6 separate regions of the Homo sapiens genome follow, and regions 2, 3, 4, 5 and 6 are each reported to be linked to region 1. The links are microRNA targets in miRTarBase. Many come from high-throughput screens and were not tested one by one. Region 1 holds a microRNA gene; each other region holds the end of a gene's coding sequence.

Evidence for each region. Region 1 holds the annotated microRNA hsa-miR-5006-3p (UUUCCCUUUCCAUCCUGGCAG, at 2,871-2,891, opposite strand). A microRNA usually pairs through its seed, bases 2 to 8, with sites in the 3' UTR of a target mRNA and lowers its output. Matches are read on the target gene's strand: a 7mer-m8 pairs with bases 2 to 8, a 7mer-A1 pairs with bases 2 to 7 and ends in A, and an 8mer does both.
Region 2: the mRNA of ZBTB43 is a reported target of hsa-miR-5006-3p. Seed matches in the 3' UTR shown: 8mer at 797-804.
Region 3: the mRNA of TFDP3 is a reported target of hsa-miR-5006-3p. Seed matches in the 3' UTR shown: 7mer-A1 at 473-479.
Region 4: the mRNA of CPT1B is a reported target of hsa-miR-5006-3p. The part of its 3' UTR that is shown has no 7-base or 8-base seed match.
Region 5: miRTarBase lists RRS1 as a target of hsa-miR-5006-3p. Seed matches in the 3' UTR shown: 7mer-A1 at 695-701 and 7mer-A1 at 874-880.
Region 6: miRTarBase lists DPF2 as a target of hsa-miR-5006-3p. Seed matches in the 3' UTR shown: 7mer-m8 at 2,120-2,126.

The regions. Positions count from the first base shown.
Region 1 is chr13:41,565,436-41,570,543 of GRCh38, forward strand. It overlaps MIR5006 (microRNA 5006), which reads right to left and starts at 2,960; the gene lies at 2,851-2,960. It overlaps VWA8 (von Willebrand factor A domain containing 8), which reads right to left. Exons shown (of 45, transcript NM_015058.2): 44 at 5,033-5,108; 45 at 1,400-2,870. The coding sequence ends at 2,762.
Region 2 is chr9:126,833,359-126,838,358 of GRCh38, forward strand. It overlaps ZBTB43 (zinc finger and BTB domain containing 43), which reads left to right. Exons shown (of 3, transcript NM_014007.4): 3 at 1-4,852. The coding sequence ends at 555. Among named protein-coding and RNA genes, the nearest start is that of ZBTB34, 25 kb to the right of the region's middle. RefSeq lists an enhancer at 1-349.
Region 3 is chrX:133,212,367-133,217,474 of GRCh38, reverse strand. TFDP3 (transcription factor Dp family member 3) reads left to right here. Exons shown (of 1, transcript NM_016521.3): 1 at 1-813. The coding sequence ends at 433. Among named protein-coding and RNA genes, the nearest start is that of TFDP3, 3.4 kb to the left of the region's middle.
Region 4 is chr22:50,565,043-50,570,150 of GRCh38, reverse strand. It overlaps CPT1B (carnitine palmitoyltransferase 1B), which reads left to right. Exons shown (of 20, transcript NM_152246.3): 18 at 483-575; 19 at 730-815; 20 at 1,070-1,290. The coding sequence ends at 813. CHKB-CPT1B (CHKB-CPT1B readthrough (NMD candidate)) reads left to right here. Exons shown (of 30, transcript NR_027928.2): 28 at 483-575; 29 at 730-984; 30 at 1,070-1,290. LOC107985568 (a long non-coding RNA gene) reads right to left here. Exons shown (of 2, transcript XR_001755606.3): 2 at 1,008-1,544. Among named protein-coding and RNA genes, the nearest start is that of SYCE3, 4.7 kb to the right of the region's middle.
Region 5 is chr8:66,429,768-66,434,767 of GRCh38, forward strand. RRS1 (regulator of ribosome synthesis 1) reads left to right here. Exons shown (of 1, transcript NM_015169.4): 1 at 1-966. The coding sequence ends at 462. ADHFE1 (alcohol dehydrogenase iron containing 1) reads left to right here and starts at 2,737. Exons shown (of 14, transcript NM_144650.3): 1 at 2,737-2,808. The coding sequence starts at 2,750. It overlaps LOC102724687 (a long non-coding RNA gene), which reads right to left and starts at 2,599. Exons shown (of 5, transcript XR_929013.3): 1 at 2,517-2,599. RefSeq lists an enhancer at 765-814 and a silencer at 2,571-2,990.
Region 6 is chr11:65,351,200-65,356,307 of GRCh38, reverse strand. DPF2 (double PHD fingers 2) reads right to left here. Exons shown (of 11, transcript NM_006268.5): 11 at 2,046-4,625. The coding sequence ends at 4,549. It overlaps TIGD3 (tigger transposable element derived 3), which reads right to left and starts at 1,557. Exons shown (of 2, transcript NM_145719.3): 1 at 1,351-1,557; 2 at 1-515. The coding sequence starts at 499. RefSeq lists silencers at 850-1,039, 1,100-1,269, 1,280-1,339, 1,360-1,679, 1,770-1,829.

The DNA.
Region 1 (5,108 bases):
CTGAGCCTCCCCATCTGTGATGAGGTCATTTTGTCGGGCACACAGAGGATTCTAGGGGGAATATGCATCATATACTGCAGCTATTCACGGCATTCATTCCTCCTGGCTGCTCATGGGTAACAATGAACCTTCTCAGCATTACATGTGCTTACTAAGGAGACAGGGGTTAGATGCCTTTCAGTGGAACCCCCCGAGGCACACAATGCATTTATTATAATGTCTTGGCCCTAAGAAGGGCCTGGGAACAGCTTGGAGTGGTCTATAATTAAGTACATTTAATAATAAATGCACATACTTCTTAGGTATTGCAAGAAGTGAAAATAAGCTCTTCGTCTTCTCAGTCTCAATTCCCTTTCCCCATCATCCTTCCCCTTCACAAATCAGAAAAGCCAGGAGTACTGTGCTTTTTTAAAAATAGCAATTGCAGAGGATGTCTGGCTGGTCGAGAAAGGTAAATTAAATTACTTGAGAACATTCTTTCCATGTCAAAAAAAATGGCTTCTGCCTCCTCAGGTAGTTACGCATGGGGAGGATTTGCTAAAGGTTGGCTGTTCCTTTAATCTCCCTTGGATTCCACTTCCAAAGGCTTTCAGGGGCAGTGACCCGCTAGCTAAGGGGCATCCCTTGGGGTTAAGCTGCCACTTGGAAGGGCACTTCCTCAGATTGCTGCTGTGCCTAGCAAGGAAGCAGCAGTTAGAAGTGTTCCCCCGACAGTGTCCCATGTCCTCGGTCCCCACACCTCTGAGTGCTCGAATATGGGCAGATAGATAGACTTTCTGAGGAAAGGGAGAGGAAGAGAGCCCTGTGAATGTGGACAGGGTACAAGAAGAGAAGTCACACTGGAAGGAAGAGAAAAAGGCAGCAGGAGTGTGACATGTACATTTGTGAGATGCAGCAAGGGGCGTGGGACTGCGAGGGACGCAAAGGCATTAAGGGGCCTGGAGGCTGGAGGCCCAGCTTTGCCCCTGCCTGGCTGTGAGTGTGGCCTATTTTCTTGAACTTCTCTAAGCCTCAGTTTCTTTACTTGTAAAATGAGGATGTTAATGGTACCATGAATAGTTAGTGAAAGGTCTAGTAACAGGAATCTTGGGAAAGTGACTTAAATTCTCTGAGCCTCACTTTCTTTATCATCTGCAAAATAAGGTAAAAAATACCCCTGTTACATGCATTGTTGTAAGGATGAATGAAATAATGTATGCAATCACTTAGCATATACCTGGTTCACAGTAAATCATCAGTAAATGCTAGCTGCTGTTGTGGCGACCGTTGGAATGCAATTACATTTTTAAAGATACATGTTGGATTGAAATTGTTTGCATCATTGAATGGTTCAATACATGGAGCAGGTGTCTCACTAGAGGAACAAGAAAGCCATGCAAACTCACCAGGTAGTACCACGTTGGAAATCAGATTGCTTTTATTTATTTATTTGATAGTTAATGATAGGGAGAGGGGTGATAGAACAAATGGGTATTATCTTTTCTTCTTTCCTATAATTAATTAAAATGAAATTATGGACCTGTACAATTTCAATAGATATGGATGGATAGGATAATATTATTAATAATAGTTTTTCCAACTTAAGACCAGTTTTTTCAACTCACTGGTGCCCTAACGTTTCTGATTTTGCTATCAATCGTGAAGAGGAGTTTTTAAATTATATGGTTAAAGAGAGAATGACTTTTGCTGAAGCATCTTATTTTAAACAAAGTAATATTGAGCTTATTGATAAAATAAAGGTCAGCCCAAGAGTGTGTGGGAATAAGGTACATTTTGAAAGAAAAGAGAATGAGGCTTTAAAAAAAGTTGTTTTCTTTCTTTTTGTTACAGCTAAAAATTTCCAATCACCATTCACTTCAAATATACCACCTTGATTTTACTTTTTTTACTTTGCTTTAGGTAATTTTTATATGAATATTCTCAATAAATAATTTTCGTGTAAGCATTTATTATTTTGAGCATTACAGTTTGGACCCCAAAATGGAGTACTGTGAATTTTTTGAGAGATGCTAGAAGAACAGAAGAAACAGTAAACTTTTAAGGCAAGACATCTTTCTCCTCCCACTCTAGCAGCAAGGAGAAGAGGACATTTGCTCTTTAAGAGCCTTTTAAAAGTCACGTGGAAAGGCAAGCACTCCAAGGATTTTTTGATTCCTTTTGGCTTTGGCCAAGAAAATGAAATTATTGAGAACAGCCAGACTTTCATAAGATATTGCTGTTGGAGGGACTTTTTGGTGGGTTAAATATTATAAAATCATTGTTTTCTGGTCAATACAGAGCAGGGAGAAAATAAAAATAATTGTTGGATAGGAGCATTTTGGTGGGTTTTGCACAGACTTGCATCTTGTGTCAGAATGTGACATCAAAGGCTCAGTTTGATGGGGTCACTTTTCTAACGTGACCAGATGATGTGTTAAGGCAAAAGCAAAGTATTTTCTCCCCCTCAGGTTTTTGGAAATAGACCAAACACATAGTTCTCAAAACCACCTTCCTTTAACCCCAACCTTTGATAAAGTGCAGGTCAACTAGCTTGCCCTAATCACTTCTAAACTCATCAGTGGAGTATCTTTCCATGTTTAAGTCTCCTTCTGGCTGCTTCTCTGAATTCTCATTACGGAGCAAGTGTAGGAAGACCCAGGAATGCCGGAATCATCCAGTCACTGCATGGGTTCACTTCATCCATATCTTCTTTTTTTCAGAATACTCTTTATTCCTGTCTTATTTCAAATCCTGGTGTCATCAGGGTGATGAAGGGCACTTCTTAGACACTCGACAACATGGTGGAGGTGAAGATCTGTTGTAAAATCTGAGGGATATCCTTGGTATCCATGGCAACGAAAGACCGACCAGCTGGTAAAGTTCTCTGAAGCCTGCCAGGATGGAAAGGGAAAGGAAGTTACCACTGTAAATGGGGCTCCCTTCCACCTCCTGCCCTGGCAAACCACAGCCCCCTAATGGTTTCTTAGGAAAGGAAGTTTTTACTTTCTAATACCTTGCTCTCTGCCTACCATTGAATTAGTCGTCATTAAACAATGAAAGGCTTGGAAGAGCAACAAGGAAAGACACAGCAAAAGCAGGGAACTGAAAGAAAGGTCTTTTCAGTGAGAAAGTCAGTGAATTTGAAAAGAAAAAATTTTCTTCCTTTCTTTACTGCCATTTCTTGGTATTTCATATTCTTTTGGTATAACAGAGCCATAGGGATTCATATGGAATCAGCTCACCTCCCGGGTCTAGCAAATATGTTGACCTTACACTGTATTTCGAAGTGCTTTTCCTTCCTTAGAAAACAGGCCTCTAAAAACGCTGCGCAGCCAAACCCTGAGTGGTTCTTTCTCTCTTTCTTTGCCTCTCTCTCTTTTTTTTGGTCCACATCACACAATGTGAAATGCGATCTGGATTGTCCAATTACTGCTTCAATGACACTGAGGTTATACAGGCTTATGAAATTTTTTCCAACTCATTTTTAAGTGAATTTTAAAAAACTTATAATGGGTTTTGATTTGAATTATCCTTAAAAATAACATGTCATTGAAGTTACGATACTTTTTTAAATACTAATTTATAATTTGGAACAAAAGGCCATTTTGAAGGCAACAAAACTGTAAGACACAGTTCTCTTCAAAAGAACGCCTCCTTTCACTGTGCCAGTGAAGTCTGGCTTTGGAATGACATTTAATAAAATTCAACCATCCTGTGTAGTATCGTATATTTGGCATGCCTGGTAAGCCAGCTAATTCTGCAACATATCTTTTGCCAGTGGATGTTGGACCATTTCCCTAGGAAACCACAAGGGTATTATTGTGCTTTCTTAAGTATTCAAACAGGATCTGTTCACTAGAAAGACAAAATAGCCATTTCATCTCAACTAGTATTTGTTGAGCTTGTTGTCTGCCTAATACTGGGCTGATGCTGAGGAAAACCTGGGTGGAAAAGGCATAGTTTGTGTTTGAGGATGTGGAGGTTCTAAAAGATGCAAAGTGCTAACTTGTAAAAACTAAGAAGAATGAAAAGTCATGTCATAAAATGACTGTAACTACATGATATTAAGTCTGTTCTCAACCTCGCTCTGCAACCTTACAGCAAGGCAAAGGGAATAGAAAGAGAAAAAGCTGCTAGCATTTTGGATATTAAAACATTTCCAGTCACAGAGTATGAAAAGTAAAAGGGGTGGAATAACAAAAACGTAGGCCCTTTGTGCTTTAGGCAGGGATTTTTTTTTTTTTTTTTAAGATTACTTTCACTGGTGTTTTATGTTTCTTACAGGTATTTTAAACACAGAAAAACCATGAGCTCTTTCTGTTTGTAATTCAAAAAGATAAATGTTATTGTGTTCAAGTTATGAAAGTGTTTCCAGATCTCTCCTTTCAGATCATACCCACTGGTATTTATTGTCTGATCATAAGATTCTCTATTGAATATTTAGTATATTCAGTGTAGTATCTAACTATATGTATATTATCTTATGTTGTCGCCAAGTGTTTCACCTGCCTTGTCTCTCCAGCAATAAGAAGGGATACATGTGAGTGTGTCTATATATATATACAGGCATGCATATATGTAGGTGATGTCTCTATGGGGATATAATACATATGTGTGTATATATATGTCTAATATGTACAGACATTCATACACACACACTATCTCCTATGCTAGGAAAATAGTAGATGTTCACGATTTTTAATATGATTTGAACACAAAATGATTAGCCTGAGCTTAGGAGCTTGACATAAAGTGCCAAATGTATAAAATACTACCCGGTTTATTAGTGACAAATCAATTTGTCAATGATTTATTAGTGGCTTAAATATAAACTAAAAAATAATTAATTTAAAATTATTATTGTTCATCTAAACAAAAGCTAGAACATATCCCCTCAACTAGATTATAAACCCCTTGAGGCTAGTAACTTTAGTTTCTGTTTTTCCTCCATCTGCCTCACTGTCCCTCATGGTGCTAAGCCTATAAAACAGCATGTGTTAGCTACTCAGTATCTCTGTACCTGCCCTTTTCTGTATGCTCAGATGACACTTACCTGGTTGCTTGATCACCTAAAGAGCCAATAAAAATGGCAAAAGCATTTACTTGAGGGTCTCTTGTGAGGATTTGAG
Region 2 (5,000 bases), not on the chromosome of region 1:
CCTTCGGGAGTGGAGGAGGACTTCCACATCGGGGAGAAGAAAGTGGAAGCTGAGTTTGATGAACAGGCTGATGAAAGCAATTATGATGAGCAGGTGGATTTCTATGGCTCTTCCATGGAAGAGTTTTCCGGAGAGAGGTCAGATGGGAATCTAATTGGGCACAGACAGGAGGCTGCCCTCGCAGCAGGTTACAGTGAGAATATTGAAATGGTAACAGGGATTAAAGAAGAAGCTTCCCACTTAGGATTCTCAGCCACTGACAAGCTGTATCCTTGTCAGTGTGGGAAAAGTTTCACTCACAAGAGTCAGAGAGATCGGCACATGAGCATGCACCTCGGTCTTCGGCCTTACGGCTGTGGGGTCTGCGGTAAGAAATTCAAAATGAAGCACCATCTCGTGGGCCACATGAAAATTCACACAGGCATAAAGCCGTATGAGTGTAATATCTGTGCAAAGAGGTTTATGTGGAGGGACAGTTTCCACCGGCATGTGACTTCTTGTACTAAGTCCTACGAAGCTGCAAAGGCTGAGCAGAATACAACTGAGGCTAACTAAAAATAGGATCTGGCCCTTGAGTGGCATGCACAAAAATAAACTATGGTAATTAATGCAAATCTGGGCACAGATGATGCGTGCTACTTGCTATTATGAGAGAAGCTTAAAAAAAAAAAGGAAGATATTTCTGAAAGACCAGCTCTAAGTAGGCCAATTAAAAAAATCTAATTCCTCAAATTTGTGTGTTCCAGTCCTGGCCTGGAATGGGTAATGGGGTGAGTTAACCCACCGCCCAGCTGGCAAGGGAAACCTTCTGACTGGTTGTGATCGAAACAGGTGGACAGAGACACCTGCACTTGGAACTGGACTCCACCCACCAGTTCCATTTTGGGTGGCAGCAGCTTTGGATCACTCATTATTACAAGGTCATGCTGAAATTTTATTTTGCTCTTGCTATAGATACTTAGGTAATGTGGATTTGTTTTGGTAGCTATTTCACTGAAGGAAGTGCTACTTATATAAAAGCTAGAAATAATGTGATTCCTAGGATGAGAAATTGGTTAACAGAGCTCTGTTGTCTGGTTTTAGTCTTTCTAAAGGATATTTTAACTAAAACTATGGAGATGCTAAGAGAGTGACTTTCTAAATATGAAACAGATAATTTACGGTACAAGGCTGACATAGTGCCCTTGTCAGTTTCTGTAAGATGCCACTACTGTCACAAGGTGTTTCAGACTCTTGATAAGGCAGTGTTTTGTATTTTAGTTCTAACATTGAGTTTGGACAATTTTATCTAATTGTAATTCTCTAGGGTGCCAGAGATAGGTATTTCTCATTGGTTTGCTTTCCCAAATCCTGTTTGGTTAATTGTAGCCTCCATACAGTGGGGTCTTCTCTGTGGCTGGTAGACACCAAGCTGCTGTGACTGACCACGGTACCACGGGCTGCCACAGCCCCTGCTCTGTCTTAGATTATGGTGCTTTACAAAGAGAGTGGTCCATGACCACACTTAGTGAGAAGGAGCCACAAGTTGTGGCTGAGAGTTCCCTGTGAACTTGAGTAGTTCATAGAGTGCTAAGGTGACACTCCACCAACCAGAGTGAGAGGGCAGATAGGCAGGATTCTATGAGTGGTTATACTTAAGGGGGACAAAACTGCCCAAGAAGAATCTTGAGAATACACTCTTTCAAGGTGGGGGAGATACTCTTTAGAGGGTACACTGAGCTAATACTACCAGTTCTTTATGAGCACTGGAATGTGTTTGTAAAAGGAGTCCTAAGTTTAGCAAGGTAGTCTACAGAACCATGCTCCCACATTATAGATAAAGCTGCTTAAACTTAAAAGTCCACAAAGCTACGCCGACCAGAAAAAAAAAATTAAAAAAACAAACAAGAAAAGCAACTATTCTGAGACCTTTTCTGCCCATCAGTTAGATGATTTAGGTTAAAAAGAAAGGTAATATTGCACATGCTTTTAAGCTGTGTAACATACCTGAGGTTATCACCAGGGTAGGACAGGGTGCTACTACCATGTCATCTTTTCCACAATCGTACTGGGTTATTTACTTCTAAATAGAAACTTTTTTTTCTTAAAATAAAAATAATTTTTCTTGGATTTGGGGTGAAATTTTATTTGAAAAGTTTGGCTTTGCTGTAATGTAATAGACATTGCTGGCAATGGCCTCTGATTCTCAAGCTCCTAACACCAGGGTGTTTACTTGTTGAACATTGTCTGGAAAGAGGAAAGAAAATACTTATTTACCAGTTAACTCTTGTAAGCAAGATTACAAACAGGGATTTATTCACAACACTGTATCATTCTCGATATATAAAAAGCACTTTGTATTTAAAACTTTATTATAAATATATATATATATTGTTTTTTTTTAAACCTAGAAACTAGATATTACCTCTTGGTTGTTTGCCACATTAATAGCTTCTCTTAGTATTGAAACGTTACTGGTTAGCAGTCTTTTCTCTGTGTACCTGACACACGTATACTGAGGGGATTGTACAATCAAGCCTATTGTCTCCTTTTCTTTCACTCATGGTAGAGGCCAGTGGGTTTTAGGTATGATCCTAGCCATTATATTTGAGGAGAAATTGTTCTATTACTCCTACTAATTTCAGTACTAAGGTGGTGATGCCATTTTGTTCTGCCAAAAACTGATCACCCTCTCCCATGGTATTAGCAGAGCATTTTCTGCCTGTTTGGAAGGTTTGATGTCCTGTTTCTCATTGAAGACTATTTACATGATCATTAGGACATTGCAGGAGAAGTCTGAGAGGTAAAAATACAGATATTCTGGGAGAGTCGTGGTCCTTCAGTTCTGCTGAAATCAGCATAGTGCCCTTGTCATGAGGAAGAGTTTCTGTTCAGCCAAGAGTGGTGGCACGCTTGGGTGGTAGTTTTGGAAGCAGTCAGTTGTGCTAGGACTTATTTAATATGTTGTGAAGAGAAGAGTGTCTTCTTGAAAGCCTTATGTGTCCATCAGCTACTAAATGTAGAACTTAAATAAGTTGCTCACATCTGTTCTTTTAGTGTTTTGTGGTATTTGAGGTTTTGGCAAAAATTGGGATTTTTTTATCAGGCAGCCAGAGCCTGGGAGGTGGTAGGGTGTCTGAAATGCTGGCCATGTTCAGAGAGGCAGGAGAAGGGGGTTGCTTTCATTTGAATATTAAAAGTGAATTTTTGTAAACTCTGGTTTTTACCTTTTTTTCATCCCCACGTTGAGTTGGAGGAATAGTCTCTTCTCTTCACCTCAATATAGCTTTAGAAAATCTTTATCCTTCCTAATAAGTTTGGATGGTTGTGGGTAACATTGTTCAAACAATCTTTCAGGGATCACGTCAATGGCCTACAACCAAGCTATTTGTCCCCTACTTTGAGTCTTAACTGTGGTTTTTCTTCAATCCCCATGGGAAAGGGCTTCAAGGCACCACCAGTGGTATTTAATATTCATACTTGGGGCCAGGCATGGTGGCTCACGCCTGTAATCCCAGCACTTTGGGAGGCCGAGATGGGTGGATCACCTGAGGTCAGGAGTTTGTGACCAGCCTGACCAACATAGTGAAACCCCATCTCTACTAAAAATACAAAAATTAGCCAGGCGTGGTGGCGCACACCTGTAATCCCAGCTACTCGGGAGGCGGAGGCAGGAGAATCACTTGAACCTGGGAGGCGGAGGTTGCAGTGAGCCGCGATTGCACCACCACACTCCAGCCTGCGCGACAGATCGAGACTCTGTCTCAAAAAAAAAAAAAAAATTCATACTTATGCCATGCTTTTACCTTTAGATACACACGTTACAGTAATCCACGTGGTGAAGTGCATGTCACCGTTAACTAAGGAAGGACTGCGGTAACTTACCCTGCAGGGCTGTAGGTTGCCTGCAGGCGCTCCAGGCCCCCAGCCTGTTGATTCCGATTTCTAGGTCTCATCTTCCTCTGGTCCCTTTTGGCCACTACTTTAAAAGCTTGCCCAAAGGGATCCCCTCCATTCTAGTGGGCATTTGCTGAACTAACCTGCCCCTAAGGCTGGCTTCTAACCACCGGGGAAAGCTGCTTAGCCTCCAGGGCTCCCTCCTTGAGAGGCTCACACACCCCCAAGCTGCTGTGGAGTGAATTTGAGACGGAGCAGAAGCTGCAAAGCTGTGCTTTCCCTGGGGAAGGGGATGTGCTGCGGCCTCCTGGGTGGGCGTGGAGAGGGCGCCATCACAACGAGTCCAGGTTTTTGCTTTTGGAAGGTCTCTGATAATTTAGGGGTGCTGGAAACCAGCACTGTGTTATCCCCAATCCCTCCTGTGCCACCAGTTTTGTGATTTAGGTTGCTTTAGTGGGTGACTAACTTTTGTTCAGTGAAACCAGGGTTTGTTTGGGGTTTTTTTCTTTGCTACTTACATATTTAAAGGTACAAGTTTCTTATTTCAAATCTCTACTGATAGTGCCCTATGGGGAGATGCTGGAACACATTTTGCAAATGTGACTTTTTTTTTTTTTTTTAATTTTTGCTTGAAGCCTGTGTCATGTTAGTTGCTGCTGCCTTCTTTCCTTTTGTGAGGTTCCCAATGTTTCGTCCAGAAAAGTACTTTATTTATGCAAGTCAGGTGACTCTTAGGCCACAAAACCATTTGATGATAAACAGATTATCATTAGGTGCATATCTTATTGATATTTTGTGAAATGTTATGCCTATGTTGCAAAAGTTGAATAGTTTTGTCTTTATATATTGCTGTCTTCAGTGTACAGCATGGTTTTACTTAATTGAATGTTAATGTTTAATATTTTCTTCTTATAGAAGAGATCATGCCCTTTTGTATGACATGTTTTAATAAATGTTATCTGTCAACTTTGTAAAAGTTTTGTTTTTCACTATGAGTAGATGACCACATCTTGTTTGACTCTGGGTTTTGCCACCTGAGAATACAGTTATATGGTGGCGTTTTGGTAAGTAAATGCCAAATAATCTGATCCAATGGGCAGTGAGTGACTGCCAGGCAGGCATTT
Region 3 (5,108 bases), not on the chromosome of region 1:
CAAGAAGACCGTCATCAACTGCAGCATCTCCGACGACAAATCAGAATATCTGTTTAAGTTTAACAGCTCCTTTGAAATCCACGATGACACAGAAGTGCTGATGTGGATGGGCATGACTTTTGGGCTAGAGTCCGGGAGCTGCTCTGCCGAAGACCTTAAAATGGCCAGAAATTTGGTCCCAAAGGCTCTGGAGCCGTACGTGACAGAAATGGCTCAGGGAACTTTTGGAGGTGTGTTCACGACGGCAGGTTCCAGGTCTAATGGCACGTGGCTTTCTGCCAGTGACCTGACCAACATTGCGATTGGGATGCTGGCCACAAGCTCCGGTGGATCTCAGTACAGTGGCTCCAGGGTGGAGACCCCAGCAGTCGAGGAGGAAGAGGAGGAGGACAACAACGATGACGACCTCAGTGAGAATGACGAGGATGACTGACGTCCTCTCGCCTTAAGATTCAGCTTCAGGAAAACATTTAGGGAAAAGAAACTTTTTTTTTTTTTTTAATGTGAGGTTTTCTGTTTCTTTTTTGCCTACTCCCAAGAAGATATTGGTAAGCTATAGAATTTAGATATGCACCTCTGATAAGCAAGGATTGTTTCCCGTATGATTAAGACGTGCTGTTGATGTGTGTTTTGATACCAGTGTGCTGACACAGAATCTTTATTTACTTTTTAGGATTTTGTGTTTTCATTTTCTATTTTTCTTTAAATGCAGAGTTCATTGTTGCCCCTTAACAGTTTTTCCTGAGTTTACTGAAGAAATTGTACTTCATCCACATCCATGAAAATAAAATGCTCTCCTTTTGTGCACAGTGAGTACCGAATGCCGTTTATTTGCCTTGGATTTGGATGGCACCCCCACTGATGCATAGCAAGACTCTTGAGTTTTCCATTTGTTCAGTTTTGCAGTGTCCAGAGCCCCAAGCAAACGGCAGAATTCTATTTTCAGAACAATAAACACCATCAATCTTAAAAAAAAAGAGGTAGGGCCTTTAAGAGGTGATTAGGCCATAAGGGCTGTGCCCTCATCAATGGATTAATGCTGTTATAATAGGAATAGACTCTTGATAGAAGGATAATTTCAACCCTGTTCCTCTGTCTTGAATGCTTGCTTGCCATTCTGCCATGTTAGGACACAGCAGGAAGGTCTTCACTAGGTGCCAAGCATATGCTGGCACCATGGCTTTGGACTTCTCAGGCTCCAGAACCATAAGCCAAATAAATCTATTTTTCTTTATAAATTACCCAGTCTGTTATAGGAGCAGAAAACGAACTAAGACAGGATGGCTGAAGGCTCCTAGCCGGCAATCAATGCACATCTATCTATGCAGGAATCATTTGCTGACTGGAAGCAAGATGAGTAGGTTTTCCTTTTTCAAATTGGTGAGATAGAACAGCAGTGGAGCCTATAGCAGTGTCATGGTATGGTGAGAAGAAACTGGGTTAGAACCTAGGTAGGGAGATCTTGACTCATTAATATGAGAAAGTTGTACCAAAAGTGTGGCTGGGGACAGCAGAGGGAGCTGTTGCTTTCTTCAAGCACAGTTTCACAAAGGGTCATCTTTCCAACCATATGCAGACCTGTCCAGAGTTCCAAGAAAAAATAGACACTAGGATAATCACTGTGAAAGCAAGACCGTAAGACCCATTAAGAGAGGGCAGGTAGTTAATTACAATGAGATACCACTTCACACCCATTAGGATGGCTATTATGATTATTATTTTGAGATAAGGTCTCTATTGCCCAGGCCTGCAGTGCAGTGGAAAGATCATGGCTCACTGCAGCCTCAACGTTCCAGGCTCAATCAATCCTCCCACCTTAGCCTCCCGAGTAGCTGGGACTACAGCTACTCCACACCTAGCTAATTTTTTTTTTTTTGGTATTTTTTGTAGAGTTGGGGTTTCACCATGTTGCCCAGGCTGGTGTCGAGCCCCTGGGCTCAAGCAATCCACCTACCTCAGCGTCCAAAAGTGTTGAAATTACAGGTGTGAGCCACCACACGTGGTCATGACTGACTTCTTTTACTTAGCAAAATGTTTCCAAGGTTCATCCATCTTGTAGCATGGATCAGTACTTCATTCCTTTTTATGGGTAACATTCCATTGTATGGATAGATAGACTTTTTGTTTATCCAGTCATCTCTTGATGGCCAGTTGGGTTGTTTCTGCCTTTCGGCTATTGCGAGTAACAGTGCAGTGAACATTAGTATGCAAATATCTGTTCAAGTCTCTGCTTTCAATTCTCTTGAGTATGTGTGTATCTGGGAGTGGAATTACTGGGTCATATGGTAACACTATATTAAGCCTTTTGAGGAACCACCAGGCAGGTTTCCACAGAAGCTGTGAAACTCCCACCAGCAACATACAAGACATCTAAGACATGGTTTCGAGTAGTCTTGGGAGTAGAGAAGACACTACCAAGGTCACCTGTGTATAGTGATGGCACTGGCTGGTCCCTGTTTTTTGGGGGATCGGTTCCCTTGTGTCCTGTCTGAATACTTTTCCAAACCATGCTGCAAAACACGTGCCTTTTTTTCCCCCCATCAAGCCTTAACATAGTTGCCCCACTTTGGAAGGCTTTCAGCTCCTAAAAATTTCTGAGGAACGTTGGATCACTGAGAGGGCTGCTCCTCACCTCCAAGGGACATGTCACATAGCTCCACCTGCACTGCTTGTCAGATGTGGACTCCATGAAGGGGTGGGCACTGCCATAGCCAGTGTTCAGCCTTTGCCCTGCCTTCCCCTTGGCGCTGGCACCTAGAACATCCGAATGAACAGTCTCCTAAGGTCTGGAGCAAAGCCTTCCCAGCCAAGTGCAGCCAGCAGCCCCAGACAGTACCTCCTTTTGCCTTCTGGCCTCCTAATGTGCTTTGCATTAAAATATCCATTTTGGCTTTGCCTTTGAGTCAATTCTCAGGGGAGCAAGTAAAAGCTGAGCCATGAACATGTGGCCCATGGAGATGTAGTAGACAGAGAAATGACTGCAGTTCATTCCAGTCAGGCCCTTTTGGCGTTTTTCCCACACACCAGCAATGCCTAGGACTGACGTGTCCTTGTCTGAGCTCCGCCACTAACTGGAGGTACAATTTCAGCAAATCCCTTCTCTTCTCTCAGTCTCAGTTTCCCCATCTAATAAATGGGCAGGGAATCTCCAGGAGACACTTCCAACTCTAAATATTCTATTACTAACATTCAAGCAGAGCCTGACTCTAAGAAGCACAATCGGCATCCTTTCTGTGCGATAGAATGATAGTCAATGCTTTGGAAGATATTTGCTTTCCTGGCGAAAATGGTATGAAATAAATTTCTTTTATAATGATTCTGGTCTCAAGCCCTCCAAAACCCAGCTCCACTCTTGAAATGTTATAGGATAAGTTTTTATTTGCAGAATTTGAGTGTGACCTTTGCTGAGGCAGAACATGGTTTTGGGGGAGGGGGAGAGGCAAATGGAGGTGGGAAATACTGGATTGTGATTAACCAGATAATGAACCCCACCTGCTTTTAATCAGCCACTTCCTGTTCTCCCAGACCTCTAAACTTTTAATATTAATGGAAACAGATTTGAATTCTGGAAAGAGCTATTCTGGAAAATAATTGGATATTTACTAGGTGAAAAGTGAAATTGCACAGGCATTTCATAGGGTTTGGTATTTGACAGGTGCCATTTTTTCTTTCCAATGTGTTGCATACCTCTGTTTTATAAACCAATATGGATAGTGGTATAAAAGATTACGGGTTTACATGGTGGCAAGGCCTGGGAACATGTTCAGGGGGGTTGGTGGGCAGGAAGAGAGAACTTCAATTGGGGACAAGGCTGAAATGATTTGATTAGTAGGAAAAAAATATTTGAAGGCAAAGAATATTTCTTTAAAAGAAATATACCCATGTTCATAAATGGAGATTGCACAGAGAGAGAGAGAGAGAGAGAGATTGGCTTACCTGTGGAAGTCTGACTGCATACAAGAAGGTAACGCCTCCCTTGGCTTCTTAAAGAACTTTGTAGTTAGAGAAGGCAGGAAGGCACTGGAAGAGAGTGGGGAGATTTTATTAAAACAAAGCACAGAGCTCTCCAGGGTTGCAGGCAAGCAGAACAAATGGAAAGCAGATCTGCCAGAAAGCAAAGGAGGGCTGCTCCAGTGGGGTGACTCAGGCCCTTTGGGTTCTTTCCCTTGAGCGTCTCTCACTTCAGTCATTACTACTGTGATCATTAGGATTCCCCGCGTGTTTCCTCTTTAATGGTCTGGCCCTAGTGTGGACAGAGCCCCACCTTTTTTATTGAGATGGGGTTTTGCTCTGTCATTCAGGCAGGGGTGCAGTGGCACAATCATAGCTCACTGCAGCCTCGACCTCCTGGGCTCCAGCAATCCTCCCGCCTAGCCTCCAGAGTAGCTGGGACTGCAGGGACACACCATCACTCCCAGCTTTTTTTTTTTTATTTTGTACAGATTTATGTTGCCCAGGCTCAAGCGATCCTTCTGCCTCGGCCTCTCAAAGTGCTGGGCCTCTCAAAGTGTGAGCCACCACACCTGGCCAACAGAGCACATTTTAGGGGGATTCCTTCAGAGACAGCTGAAACTGGCTGTCCCTCTGCCCCTCTCTCCTTCCCCCCCTCCCCCCCCTCTTCCCCTCTCCCCCTCTCCCCGCCTCCCCCTCTTCCCCTCTCCCTGTCTTCCCTCTCCCATCTCTCCCGCCTCACTCTTGTCACCCAGGCTGGAGTGCAGTGGCGCGATCTCGGCTCACTGCAACTTAGCCTCCCAGGTTCAAGTGATTCTTGTACCTCAGCCTCCTGAGTAGCTGGGATTACAGGTATGCACCACCACACCAAGCTATTGTTTGTGTTTTTAGTAGAGACAGGGTTTTCACAATGTTGGCCAGGCTGGTCTTGAACTCCTGACCTCAAGTAATCTACCCACCTCAGCCTCCTGAAGTGCTTGGATTACAGATGCGCACTACCACTCCTGGCTAATTTGTGTGTGTGCATGTATTTTTGAATAGAGATGGGGTTTTACCATGTTGACCAGGCTTATCTCAAACTCCTGACCTTAAGTGACCTGCCTGCCTCAGCCTCCCAAAGTGCTTGGATTACAGGTGTGAGTCACTGTGCCCGGCTT
Region 4 (5,108 bases), not on the chromosome of region 1:
GTTAGCTATGGACTCAGGCAGCCAAGCACCTGGGACCCACCCATCCCAAATACCTCCCTGCTGAAGCATGACCGTGGTTTCCGGGGTACTGAAGCATGACTGTGGGGCTGGTTTCCAGGGTACTGGGCAGTGCACTGGGTGCTTCTGAAGTCTACTTATCCAAGAGAGTGCAGCTGTCTCCCACAGAAACCTTCACATGGGCTAGCTTGTCAGAAGGCTAGAGAACCCTCTGGAGAGAGACGGAGTGATCTAGAGAATAAGCCCCCTGAGGGAAACTGGGAGGTCCCAGATCCCTTGGCGGGGTCTGGGCAGCATTCTTTGGTTTTCACAGTTTCCTGGGGGTGGTCCTCAGGAAAAATGCAGTGTCTAGGGCTGGGGCCCGTTCCTGCAACTCTTGTGGGAAGAACAAGTACAATATCAGCTTGGCTTTCAGATCTTCAAGGTTTGATTTATGCCTTCTTCACCCTTCTTGTTGCCCTCAGGTAGCAGATGATGGCTATGGAGTTTCCTACATGATTGCAGGCGAGAACACGATCTTCTTCCACATCTCCAGCAAGTTCTCAAGCTCAGAGACGGTGAGTCTCCTGCCACAGCTCAGGCCTGAGGAAGGGGTGCCACCTGGGGCTGCCCAGGAACACAGGTGTCTTTGGCTGGGGAGGCATCCTTGCTTGTGGGAACAGAGGGGTGGGTACATATCTGAAGGTGCATCTGAACTCTTGGCTCCCACAGAACGCCCAGCGCTTTGGAAACCACATCCGCAAAGCCCTGCTGGACATTGCTGATCTTTTCCAAGTTCCCAAGGCCTACAGCTGAAGGTTGGAGAAATGCCAGCTGCCCTTTCGTCCCCACACTGTGGAGGAAGGGACCTGTGGCAGCTCACAGGCATGAGGGGTGGCCGTGCACAGGTGCCCAGGCTCCAAGGACAGCTCCGGCAGCAGGTCCTCGCTGGGCAGATGCTGCTCCCTGAGGGCCCAGGTGGTGGAGGTGGGGTTGGAGCAGGAAGGGAATTTTGATTTTTTTTTTTCTTGATAGATACTAATAAAAATAAGGCTGTGTAATTTTCTCTCAGCCCTTAGGTACCTGTGTTTTGTTTGGGAACTCGGAGGCCCTCCCCCTCCCCCAGCTCAGACCACAGAGGTGGCAAGAGAAGGGCTGAAGCTGGAAGACTGTTCATGAGGGACTTGTGTGACCTGCTTTGAAATGTGTGACTCTGCTGAGTGACGTAGGCTCTGAGATAGCTGTCCACGCCCACGTGTTTGCTTGGAATAAATACTTGCCTCAGAACCTTCACCTGTTCCCTGGGGCCATTTCTGTTTGTCTGTCTGCTGGAGAGTGAGCCCACCTCCTCCCATGCAGGGGCATGTGTGAGGCACCCCTCTTGGCTGAGGCACAACCCTGCACGGGCCCCGCAGCTTCTTGTCAGCATGGAAAGGGGCTGCAGGCCCAGGCCTGAAGTCTTGAGGCGCCAGGTGGTCATGTCTGCAAGAGGGCACGCAGGATGACCTGTAGCAACAGACACTCCTTCACTGAGGTTGGCTCGGCTGCTAAAATCATGTTAAGAGTAAATACAAAATAATTATTCTTTGTTTTTAAGGCGGAGTTTCGCTCTTGTTGCCCAGGCTGGAGTGCAGTGGCACGATCTCGACTCACTACAACCTCTGCCTCCTGGGTTCAAGCGATTCTCGTACCTCAGCTCCTGAGTAGCTGGGACAACAGGCGCCCGCCATCACGCCCGGCTAATTTTTTGTATTTTTAGTAGAGGCAGGGTTTTACCATGTTGGCCAGGCTGGTCTCGAATTCCTGACCTCAGGTGATCCACCTGCCTCAGCCTCCCAACGTGCAGGGATTATAGGTGTGAGCCACCGCACCCAGCCATAAAAAATAATTTTTATGAAAAGTATAAGTAGGCCCTCAATTACTGTAATTGAAGTGAATTAGATTCAGTTCTGGACCTTCATTTAGGAACCAGTGTCTTCATCTGTTTTTGTTTTTTTCTTTTTTTTCCCATGAGATAGGGTCTCACTATGTTGCCCAGGCTGGTCTCGAACTCCTGAGCTTAAGTGATCCTCCCACCTCGACTTTCCAAAGTGCTAGGATTTCAGGCGTGAGCCACCGTGCCCGGCCAGGAACCAGTGTCTGTTGAACACCCACCATAGACTTGGCCCTGTGCTGGGGATTCAGTGGTAAACAAGGTCCTATTCCTGCCCATGTCGAATTCACTGCTGGGTGAGGCAGGTGTGGTCAGGGGACAGAGCAGCTGGCAGGAAACCAGGAGGCTTTTGGGATAATCCACTTACCAAGTACAGGCATGGGTTGCTTAATGAAGGGGATACATTCTGAGAAGTGCATTGTTAGGCGATTTTGTTGTGCAAAGATTCTAGAGTGCATTTACACAAAGGTAGATGGTGCAGCCTACTACAGACCTGGGCTATGCTGCTTACCCTGTTGCTCCTAGGCCGCATGCCTTTACAACATGTTACCATACTGAATACTGTAGGCAACTGTAATACAATGGGAAGTCTTTGTGTATCTAAACTTGTCTAAACATAGAAAAGGTATAGTAAAAATGTTATATAAAAGATTAAAAATGGCACCCTTATGGCCAGGTGCAGTGGCTCACGCCTGTGATCCCAGCACCTTGGGAGGCCGAGGCAGGTGGATCACGAGGTCAGAAGATCGAGACCATCCTGGCTAACACGGTGAAACAGTGTCTCTACTAAACAAAATACAAAAACTAGCCAGGCATGGTGGCGGGCGCCCGTAGTCCTAGCTGCTTGGGAGGCTGAGGCAGGAGGATGGCGTGAACCCAGGAGGCGGAGCTTGCACTGAGCCAAGATGGCACCACTGCACTCCAGCCTGGGCAACAGAGCGAGACTCCGTCTCAAAAAAAAAAAAAATGGTACCCTTATATAAGACACTTATAAGACACCATGGGCTGGGCGCAGTGGCTCACGCTTGTAATCTCAGCACTTTGGGAGGCCAAGGCAGGTGGATCACAAGGTCAGGAGATCAAGACCACGGTGAAACCCTGTCTCTACTAAAAATACAAAAAATTAGCCAGGTGTGGTGGTGGGTGCTTGTAGTCCCAGCTACTGGGAGAGGCTGAGGCAGGAGAATGGCGTGAACCTGGGAGGTGGAGCTTGCAGTGAGCCAAGATCGCGCCACTGCACTCCAGCCTGGGCGACAGAGCAAGACTCCGTCTCAAAAAAAAAAAAAGAGGAAAAGTAAGTGGAGAGACAAAAGGAGAGGTGGGTGGCAATTTCAGACAGTGGCAAAAGCAAGCCTTCCTGATTGGGGTCCTTTGACCACAGGCCTGAAGGAGACGAGGAGCAAGTCATGTCCCTCATGTCCCTCATGTTCCGTACCTAAGGGCAGAGTATTCCTGGCTGAAGGAACAGCAAGAGCCAAAGCTTTGCGAGCGGTGTCTGCTGTGATGAAGGATGTGGCTAGTGTGGAGTCAGGGATGGGAAGAGCAAGCGGGGCAGCTAGATCGGGGTAACAAGGGCCTCGTAGGCCAGATTCTGGATTTTCTGAATGACGGGGGAAGCTGTTGGGCTTTGAACAGAGGGTGGCATAATCTGTCCTAATTTTAAGGGATCACTGGCTAACCAGGGTGGCGTTAGAACAAAGTAGGACGCAGTAACAGTGGAAGCAAGGAGACCCGCTGGAGAAGTGCTCCTGGTGGTGGTGGAGCTGGAAGAAATGAGCGGCTTAAACTAAGGCAGTGCCATAGGAAAGTAGAATTAAGGAGCTTGGAATGTCAAACGTAGGACTGACAAGTCTAATCAGGAGGAATCAAAGATAACTCATATTTTCTATATTGGGTGATTGGGTGATTAAATTAGGTCTTTAAATGTTGAATTTGACTTGCCTATAAGAAATAGCTGTGAAAATGTCTCAGACTCTTGAAAATATAAATGAAAAGCTAAGGAGAGATCTAGGCTCCTTCTAACAGTTTTGAAGACAGTTAAAACCTTGAAAGTGCATGAGAGGATTCCCAGGGCAGAGGCTCCTCACCTCCTTCAAGTCTTCATGAGCTATAAGAGTATGCCTCTTGGGGCCGGGCGCGGTGGCTCACACCTGTAATCCCAGCACTTTGGGAGGCCGAGGCGGGCAGATCACGAGGTCAGGAGATCGAGACCATCCTGGCTAATACAGCAAAACCCTGCCTCTACTAAAAATACAAAAATTAGCCGGGTGTGGTGGCACGTGCCTGTAGTCCCAGCTACTCAGGAGGCTGAGGCAGGAGAATCGCTTGAACCCAGGAGATGGAGGTTGCAGTGAGCTAAGATGGTGCCACTGTACTCCAGCCTGGGAGACCGAGACTCTGTCTCAAAAAAAAAAAAAAAAAAAGAGTACACCTCTGCCTGCAAAATGTTACATTCCATATCAGAGCGTTCTTCAGCTTCCAAAAGTATTTCCAGAGACCTCTACCTGTTTGGGTGCCAGTAAGCCTCCCCTGGGAAGGTGCCTGCGTTTTGGTAGTCTTCTGGGGACATCAGCTCACCCCGTCCTGAGATAGCAGTAAACAGAGTTTCCAACAAGCTAGCTTTCAATTAACATCAAAATTCAGCATTAAAGTTCTTTTATCTCATTTGTTCTGGGTTAAAATAGTGAGATGAGGAACAACAGTGGTAAACCAGGGTATAAACCTCTGGAGACTGCTGGGCATGGTAGCTCACGCCTGTAATGCCTGTGCTTTGGGAGGTCTTGAGCCCAGGAGTTCGAGACCAGCCTGGGTGGTGCAGTGAGACCCCATCTCTACAAAATTAAAAAAAAAAAATTAGCCAGGCGTGGTGGCACTTGCCTGTGGCCCCAGCTACTCTGGAGGCTGAGTTGGGAGGATTACTTGAGCCTGAGAGATTGAGGCTGCAGTGAGCCATGATTGACCCACTGCATTCCAGCCTAGGTGACAGAGCAACACCCTGTCTTAAAAAAATAAATAAACCTCTGATGACAACCCAAACCCCAATTAGTTCCCCATGTCCCATAGGTCTGCAGGTCTGCATTAATAAAAGCTAGCAGCCATAACATAAATCCTGAAACCTCATGGCTCAACCCAATAGAAGCTGGACTGTTGGTCAGATAAAATCCAGTTGGCTGAGATG
Region 5 (5,000 bases), not on the chromosome of region 1:
CAGAGTAAGGAGGAGCTGGGCCGCGCCATGCAAGTGGCCAAGGTCTCCACCGCCTCTGTGGGGCGCTTTCAGGAGCGCCTCCCCAAGGAGAAGGTGCCCCGGGGCTCCGGCAAGAAAAGGAAGTTTCAACCCCTTTTCGGGGACTTTGCAGCCGAGAAAAAGAACCAGTTGGAGCTGCTTCGTGTCATGAACAGCAAGAAGCCTCAGCTGGATGTGACTAGGGCCACCAATAAGCAGATGAGGGAGGAGGACCAGGAGGAGGCCGCCAAGAGGAGGAAAATGAGCCAGAAGGGCAAGAGAAAGGGAGGCCGGCAGGGGCCTGGGGGCAAGAGGAAAGGGGGCCCGCCCAGCCAGGGAGGGAAGAGGAAAGGGGGCTTGGGAGGCAAGATGAATTCTGGGCCGCCTGGCTTGGGTGGCAAGAGAAAAGGAGGACAGCGCCCAGGAGGAAAGAGGAGGAAGTAATAGTTTCTAACTGTCGGACCCGTCTGTAAACCAAGGACTATGAATACTAAATGTTAAGTTCTAGGCAATTATACGGGGACTCAGAAGGACCTGGCCGCTGCCTTCATTGAGTTTAAAGGGACAGGATTGCCCTTCCGTCAAGAAAGTATGTAAGTGTTGGACTGCACAAATTAATGTTTTTCCCACAACCGAGACTTTGGAGATTAAGAACTTATTTGAGGATTTAAGAATTAGGGAAATAATTTGGTGGAAACCGGGAATGAGTTCTATTCTTAAACAGCCTTTTTTTTTCTTTTTAATGTTGGATATACGGCGAGGTAGAGTTGGCCATATTTCAGAGACTTAGATTGACGTATATGTTTCTGCATTATTTTTACAACAAGTTTGTGTATCAGAGCGGGAGTGCGGGGGAGGGAAAGAAAACAAACAGTTTCAGAATTGAATAGGCAAGTGACTGTTTTAAAGATTAAGTAATAAAGATGTCTTATCTAGTGTGACTTTTAACTTTCTGACTACTGGGTAGAAATTGTACTTGAAGCCGGTTACCTGGATACCTGGTACAGATTATTTTTGTTTACTTTCTGAAAAACACAAAGCAGGCCGTGCGCAGTGGCTCACTCCTGTAGAGTCCCAGTACTTTGGGAGGCCGGGGCGGGCGGATCACCTGAGGTCAGGAGTTCGCGACCAGCCTGGCCAACACAGTGAAACCCCATCTCTACTAAAAATAAAAAAATTAGCCAGACACGGTGGCTGGTACCTGTAGTCCCAGCTACTTGGGAGGCTGAGGCAGGAGTATCGTTTGAACCTGGGAGGCGGAGGTTGCAGTGAGCCCAGATCACGCCACTGCACTCCACTCCAGCCTGGGCAACAGAGGAAGGGGCCATCTCAAAAAAAAAAAGCAGTTCAATTATAATGGTTTCAGTGATACCACTTCTAAACTTATACTTCTTTTGGTATCAAATATAATATTCAAAGTAGTAAAACTGATGTCTGTTTTTTAAAAAGATTTTATGCCTTTCAACACTGAACACATGGATTTCCTGTAAATGATCAATTTGGGCTTCATTGACTAATGGTAATAATCCTCATTAATCCAGAAAACACTTAAATCTTTCTCTACGTTTATATCCCCAGTTGTTTGTGTGTGTGTGTTTGTTTTTAAGCTTGACGTCAGGTATAGTTTTGTTTGGGGGAAGAAAGAAACAGACCCATAAGATCCTTAATTAGGACATTATTATCTTTTTTTAAGTTCCGGAGTAGATGTGCAGGATGTGCATGTTTGTTACATAGGTAAACGTGTGCTGTGGTGGCTTGCTGCACCTATCAACCCATCACCTAAGTATTAAGTCCCTCTGCCCCCTTCTATCCCCTGCCCCCAGGCCCCAATGTGTGTTGTTCCCCTCCCTGTGTACATGTGTTCTCATAGAACATTATTTTTTGATTCATTTGTCAAGTTGGCCTGAGCTGGTTTGATTAGGAGGTGAAATGTTTATATAGCTGTCCTTGGTCTTCCTGTCCATCAATCTTTTCCAGTTTGATCGCAGTAAATTCATTTCTGTAAAACTTAATATCTCCCATAAAGGATTCAGATTTCATAATAACAGATTACTAAAAATGCAAATGTTTAGTTGTTACTGTCTTTGGATACTTTCTGATAAAGTTGAGCTTTATCGTTAATCAGCTTTTCCACTGGGACATGGCAGATATGGCACAGCCAAGCCCTCCCGGAGCATAGTCTAATCATGGCAAGTTTTAACTATTGATGTAAGAGTTTTAACTATTGATTTTGCTTTCATCAAAAGCAAAGCCATTCACACAGTATTTAACAAAAACCCTCGGGCTCTGCTAGGTTCTTGTTTACTGTTAAAACAGTTTAAAGGCAGGGTCTTGATCACTTAAAATACTCTTAGAAGGGAAAGTAACATTTTAAAGGATTAACAGTGGAAAAAGAATATCCCTGTTCCTCTTCCTTCCCCCAAGTCCTCAACATGTGAAAAATAGAGTTGATAAGTAAGGAGATTTAAGGCAGAACCCGAGGCCTACGGAGCAGTTACCTTCTACGGCAATTTCAAGGGTGGATGGTGCGAGCGCCGCTGGGGCAGCTGGCGTTCTGGTTCTTACTCCGTGGGAAAATGGCCCTGAGCCCGACTGGCTTGAGGCTTAGACAGGTGACCCCGCGAAGCGGGTGGGCAGGCGCGGCCGAGGGGCGGGAGGCGGGCAGCCTCCGTGATTGGCCGGCGGAGGGGGCGGTGTAGCGACCCGAGGAGGGAAGAGGACTCCAAGCGCCATGGCCGCTGCCGCCCGAGCCCGGGTCGCGTACTTGCTGAGGCAACTGCAACGCGCAGCGTGAGTGCGGGGCCGGCGGGCGGGCAGGGGACCGCAGGGTGCCCACGCAGCCCCCTGGGTGTGACCCGCTCAGATCCTGCGCAGTCTTCTCCGCTTACTTTCAAGAATTCGGAGAATTTGGATACCGCCCTGGGCTCCCACCGCGCGCCAGGCGGAACAGCGAGGTCACAGAGTGCGCGATGCAGCCTCTCAGGGCGCAGTGAGGCAGCCTTTACTCTGCTTGTCTACCGTTAAAGAAACTGAGGCCCAGAGAGGACCTGGTCCCACATCGTAGCAGGCAGTGGAGAGCTTGGCACGGTGGCCAAGACAAATTCATGTATGCAATTGACACATATTTATTGGGCATATATTATGTGCCAAAAACTATTCTAGGTTCTGGGGATACAAAGATGAAAGGCTCTGGAGCAGTTTGAGGTCTAGTGGGGAATGGGATGAGGGGACGAGGCTAAAACCGGCTATAGCAGACTGGGTGTAGAAGGGAAGGATGGATGTGAGAAGTCGCAGAGTCACACTTCCTGGCATGTACAGGGAGTCAGGGTATTCAATGTCATGACACGCCTGCCTCCCAGCAGAAATGTGAGGTACATCCTGGTCACCTGATAAATACTTGCTGACTGTGCAAGTGCACAAGTCTGCCTGGGAAACATGGAAAAGTTTGAGCTCACAGGTGCAGATCAGTAGGAGGAAAGGCGAGGGACTGGCGAGGAACGTCAGGCAGAGAGAAGAGCAACACCAGCGATGGAGATGCAGTCCCAGGACACAAAAGACAAGTAGACCTACCTTTATAAGAGGAGGTAAAGATGGAGAAGACGGCTGATAAAAGACCATGAATAAGAATATAGCTAATACGATGAGCCCGGCAGTGTCTTACACACTTTGAATGGACTATCAGTATAATAGTAACTCTAATCCTTTCACTGACCCTATGACACACGGTATTGTCATCCTCATAGATACGGAAATAAAGGCATGGAGAAGAATTTGTCCAGTGTCACACAGCTAAGCAAATGGCACAGTCATAATTTGAACCCAGATACTCTGGCTTCACAGTCCTTGTTCTTAGGCCTGTAGTAAGGAATTTGAATTGTGTGCTGTAGATAATGGAAAGCCATTGAATAATATTTGTCACCATTAAACACTGATACCTTAAAATGTCCCATGACAAAAGAATTACATGGCCAAATAAGTTTGAGAAGCTCCTTACTGCTGTATTGCCCTCTTGGAGAATCAAAATATACATTAGACATGCAGGGCTCCAAGAAGCTACAAAAAATACTAAAGCTGTGTTCAAATTTTTGGTTGTAAACCTGTGTCATCATAGAACTCTTTGTCACACAACACCATTTATATCCCATGGAATCAGTGTCACACACAGAATATGTTTTTGGAATGGTTGCATGAAAAGGGAGTATGGCATAATCAGAACTGTGTTAGCACATTCTGGTGGAAATGTGGAGTGAAGAGGAAGGACTAGAGGTCATTGTCCTGCTCCAGCCTGAAGATAATGGCTTCATGCACGGAGAGGCAGTTCCTTGGGTAGATAGAAATGCTGAGAGGTTGGTTAGAATCCACAGGATTTTGTATCTGAATAGTGAAGAGTTGAGATTTCTGGCTTGGGCATCAAGTAAACAGTGGGCTCATTTACCAAGGCAGGGATTGTAGGAGAGTTAGTGTTAGGAGGAAAATGGCAACTTCAGTCTAGGGCATTTTGAGTTGAGCATGCTTCTGGTACATTCAGATGGAGACCCCAGTAGGTGATTGAATGTATTGTTCTGGGGCTCAAGAGTGAGTTGGGAACACATCCATCCATGCGTATGGAGGACAGTTGAAGCCCTAACAAAACTCTAACCTAGAAGGAAACAGCTGAGGGTGAATTCCTGGGGAGCAGCACTGCCACAGCAGGAGTAGCAAGATGGTGCTTTCTTCTGCACATGCTTATTATTCTAATAGGGTAAACATTTTAAAAGTGGGAGATTTCCAATGAAAATCTTGGAAAATTGGAAAATGGCATCATTGGGCACATGTTTCATCTGGGCAAAGTGGGCTAGGGCACGGGGTGATGTGTGGCCATTTCTATTGGACAGAGCATGCACTCTGGGCTTCTGCCCAACACATTCCATAGAGCAACTGCGCTGACAACTGAATGGAGGGGAAAGAATCAGCACTGAAGGAGACAGAGGCAAGGCGTGCAC
Region 6 (5,108 bases), not on the chromosome of region 1:
AGTCTTTTAGGGAAAGAGGCAGCTGAGCCTGGGATGTGAGCCCCGGGGGAGGTGGCTCAGGGGGGAATGAAGGCGCAAGAACATGGCGGGCCCCAAAGCCGACGTTGTTTCGGCGTTTCCAGCGGACCAGCCAGCCGATGCTGGGCACGAAGTCCTGGCCCATGATATCGGCCAGCTCCTTGGCTTTGTGGAGCAGCATGGGCCCCGTCACGTCCCAGGCCTTGGCCCGGGCAATGTGGTACCAGCAGAGCAGAGCCTCGTCGATCCCGCTGTACTTGGACTCCCGCTTGCGCTTGCGCTCTCGGTTGGCTGTGCCGCTGCACCAGTCCGCCAGCAGCTTCTCCTTATTCTTGCAGATGCGCGAGATCTGGGGCTGGGAAACCTGGAAGCGCCGGGCCACCTCCGACTGGGACATCTTGGACTCATCCAGGAGTTCCAGCACCTGGATCTTCTCGGCCAGGGACAGGGCGTGAAGCTTCTTCTTGCTGCTCAGCTCCATGGCCTCTCCGGGGCACCTGTGCGGGGAGGAAAGATTGAGCGGGTAGAGTAATCTGAGGCCGGAAGAGCTAGGAAAGGAGCGCAGGAGGGAAAAGAGATTAGATGAGGACTTGCGCAGGCACCGGGTGAGACTGGACCCGCTGAAAGAGGAAGTGGCTAGGCCGAGTGGAAGCCGGCTGGCCCCGTCCCCAGGATGCCAGGGCAGAGCTGGGGAGGGGGCGTCTCTCCACTCAGAAGGACAGGGGAGTCTGGGCTGGGGTCTGGCCTCACTCGGGAAGAAGGATGAAAAGTGCAGGGGACAGCTGCAGAGATAACAAAGGCATACGGACGGGGGAGGGCCTGGGACTGGGGCCGAGGGGGCAGGTGTGGGGCTACGGGGCTGCGGGGGAGGAGCCCCCGGGAGGGAGTGGGAGGCGGCTTGGGCTGGATTCAGATGACGCCGCTGGGGGGTGGGAGGTGGGTGGATGCACACAGAGTTGAGGTGACAGGTGTACAGACGACAAAGGGGACAGAGGGTGTCTGAAGGAGCGAGGCTAATTTGGTGCCGGGTCCTGAGAGGGAGGCTAGGCGACGGTCAGTCCTGAGGGGAGCGAGAGGGCAGGGCCGAGGGCGCAGGTGCACGAGCGACAAAGGGCGGGAGGCCTGAGGAGGCTGCGGGCAGCGGAGGGGCGGGGTGTCCCCGCGGGGAGGGTGGTGGCCTGGGAGGGTCCCAGGGCGCGGGAACGAACGCCCGGACCCAGGCAGGCCGGCAGCCGGACTCCGTGCCCTGGCCGGTCACTCCCCCTCGACCCGGAGTATGTCGGCGGGGCGGCCCCAGGCGCCCGCCCGCCCGGCCTCCCGCTCCGCACCCACCTCAGGCGCTGGTCCCGCGGCTCCAGCCCCTGCCCCCAGCCCGGCTCCCGAGCCCCTGTCCGGGCGGCGACAGCAGAACAGGGGAGGGATGGGCGCCACGACCCCGAGGGCAGAGCGGACCGAGGGCCTGCGCGGACGGCGGGCGGGCGGGCGCGCGCACAGCAGAGTCCCGTGCGCGCCGCCCGCGCCGGGCTCTCTCCCGGCTGCGAAGTCCGCGGTGCGGCCCCTCTGCACCCACCCGCCGCAGCCCCGCCCCGGCCCAAGCAGATTGGTCCTCAGTGGCGCCCCGTCCCTCCCCCGGCTAAGTTTCATTGGACGTTGCGGAAGTGGCGGTTCGTCGAGCCCCTCTGGGGGCGGGGCTTCTAGCGCGGAGGGGCGGGAGGCGGAGCCAGGAACCAGCAGGACTCCCCTGGGCGCCTCCAGCAGCCGCCGACCCCGAGGGCCCGACGAGCCCTGTAGGTGGTGTGGTGACCGCCGAGCTGACTTGGCGTCCCAAAGCCTCCCTGGCCGTGACCCTAGACCGCATCGGCTTCTTCGTCTACCAAGCAGGGCTAACAGCCCTCACGGAATTGTTTTGGGAAAACGATGAAAGGAGAAAATGGATGCAAGCTTTAAGCCACACAAAAGCTGGTTACCATGGACAGCGCTGGCTCGAGTCTGTCGGCCACGGAAACACTGCATGCTTGGGCCAGTAATGATTTAGGACGAGTATTTTATTAGATTTGGTACTTTACAAGATTCAAGTTCTTAAACTCAAGATCTGGCATCGTTCCCTTCCCTGCTAACCTTCAGTCCCGAATTAAACGCAGACGTCTTGACCCGCAGCCCAGCTGCTCTCCAGCCTCGCTGCTCCCTCCGCTCACAGCTCCGCATCCTCTGCCTTCCTCACAGGCTTCCGTCCGCACCCCCGTCCTACCGGCTGACACTGTCCAACTCTCCAAGACCCATCTCAAATCCTACCTCCCGCAAACCCTTCCTAAATTTCCTCACCTAGGCCTGCTACAGCGTTCTTATTTTCCACATTTCTTTTCTGGCTCTCGGACTACTCAGCTGCCAAAGCGCATCCATTGCTGTACTCCCTCTCTGCCTGGCCTACTTCAGTGGAAAAGCATGAGGACGGGCTGCGCTCTGCTCCTCACACAATCCCCAGCCCAGAGCACCCTGCTTATTTATTGAACATAACAGTGCAGGCCGGCCTAGGCTTCCCATAGGCAAGGATGACTTTCAGAATGTTCTAGAAAAAAGGATACTTCAGGGGGCCCATAACTGCTTGATTCAAATCTTTCCTTTAAAAACATAAAAACAACAGTTGGACTTCTAAAACACACACTGAAGACATACGCGCTGCCACGTAAGCTCTCCACATGTTCACTTTGCCTTCAGGGAAACTGTGTGCACATCAACGTGCCCTGGGAAAGGCTGCAGGGCTGCACTGCGGGCAGTTCAGATCCTAGAGCACTTGCTCTGGCCTGGGAGCGCTGCAGGCAACTGAAGCCACACAGACCCTGCTCCTGCAAGAACTTTTGTGTGTGTCCCATGGTGATGTCATTAGTTTGCTTATTAATTATATTTATATAAACTTCTGGTCCTGTTTTAAATGTCTGAGATTGCAAGGTCAACTGTTATAAACCTGTCATCACTTCCATCTATGTATCCAAGACTAGGAGAATTCTCCAAATCAACTGAAACATAAAAATAGATGTTAAAGTTGATTTTAACCCAAATTTTGTATTGATCAAAACAGCTTCATTGTTCTTTATAACAAAGAATTGTTATAAACTTGAATTTATGTAACAAAACAAAATAACCAATTTTATATTCGCTTTACATATTGGGGTTCCACAAAAAAATTTTAATTTGGGGGGAAAAAAGCTGTATTTCAAAACATTAAAAAAAAAAACCACCATCATGGAAATCTTAGGATGAAATGGCCTTCTTAATGGAGAAAGGCAGGAGATAAACCATCCAGCAGAGGGCTCTGTGTAAAAACATTTATTTTTACTAATGTTTAGAATACAGGAACTAAAGAAAGAAAAAAAAAAGACACCTCAACTCCAAAGCGACAGTGAGTTAGGGCCTGCCCACGGCCAAGGGGGAAGGCTACTCCAGGGTGTCCTGGCATGGACTGTCCCCCCACTACTTAATGTCAGTGCCACTAAGCAGAAAACTTGAGGAATCAGGGTGTGAAGACCTTACCAGCTGCTAGCGAGCGTGCAAGGGAAGAAAGGGATGTCTATGTGGCTTCCCCATGAGCTGAGAGCCAGGATACACGGGGCAGGTGGCAGAGGCTCCCAATTCAGTTAAGAGCAGGAGGCTGAATGCCCAGGTCCAGGAAGAACAAAAAGGGGATTTTGGAGGTAGGCTTTTTTGTTGTGTTAAAAAACAGGCACATTATCCATCTCCTTGTGGCCCCCGAGCTGCTGGCCTGGCCCCCTGATCCTTCCCCTCTCCCCACAAAACCAAAAGGAGTAGGAAGGGAGGCAGAAGATGAGAAATTCCAAGGGTGGGGAATGCTTCAGTCACTGGAGACCGACCGTAAGAGTGAGCCAGGAGAGCAATGGGAATAACAAGGTGAAGCTACTGTTCCCCCTGGGGTGGGGTGGAATGGGACAGGGCAGAACCAGGAGGGTGACCGAGAACATCCTGACTCCAGAAAAGAACACTCTGTAGCAGGAACACAGGGCCGCAGAGAGCCACTCTGGAGGAAAGAGGTGAGGCTATGCGGCACAGGGGCATGAAAAGCTCCTTGTGGACGTGGCCTCAGCTTGCTCGCTCCCAGCTCCCTGGCCTGGCTTGCCTCTAGAGGACAGGAAAACTCTGGAGACCAGAGGGGAGGCAGAACACAGAGAAGTGAGCTGCTCTCCCACTCTTTCTAGGAGGACACTGTTTGAACCCTGTGATCACCAGGGGCTGGGCCCAAGGCAAGCAGAGTGAATGCACTTAATGGAGAGCAGAGAGAAACTGGGCCACACGCACGCCTAGGGGCAGTGTGTTGCTCCTTTCTCCCTGAGGGCCTGGGGCCAGAGGTGGTCAGAGCTGCCACCTCAGCTTGCAGCTGCCAAAGGCAGGCTGGCACAACCACCCCAAGGTTCTCTGGATTTGTGAAGGAGAGGAGGAAGAAGGGAAAGATGGGTATGAAATATGAAGTGGAGGAGAGAAACAGCCTTAGATATGTCGGGGAGCAGGTGGGTGGCCACATCAAGAGGAGTTCTGGTTCTGGTAGATGGAAGCTTTCTCTTTCAACAGGTCCAGACACAGGTGGCAGCTCCAACTTCCTGCAGAGAGGCAAAATGGGGTCAGGATGGGTCCCACACAATCCCCACCTGCTTGCAATTCCTCTGCTCTTGATACCCCATCTCTATAGCAGGATCAGCTACAGGTAGGACGAGGGATGCTCTGCAGCAGGAAAGTTCCATGGTTTCCTGAGCTGGGATAAACCTCTAAGTCTTCAAATATTATGAAATATCATCCTCTATGGAGATGAAAGAAATAATCATCTAGAGGACTTCAGAATACTGATGCCCAGGCCCTCTTGGCCCTATTAAATCAGAAGTTTTGGGAGTAGGAAGAGGGCCTGGGAAGACAGAAGTTTGTCAAGCACCTCAGTTTTAAGACTTGTGTAGTTTCACTAAAAAACACAAAATAATTGTCCCTTATATGAAAAACAATTGGGTCATTCCTTGTTTATTAATATTGACTATGGCTGAATTCTTCTAATTTTTTTTGAATAAAATTAGTCCTTAATGCCTTGAAATGAT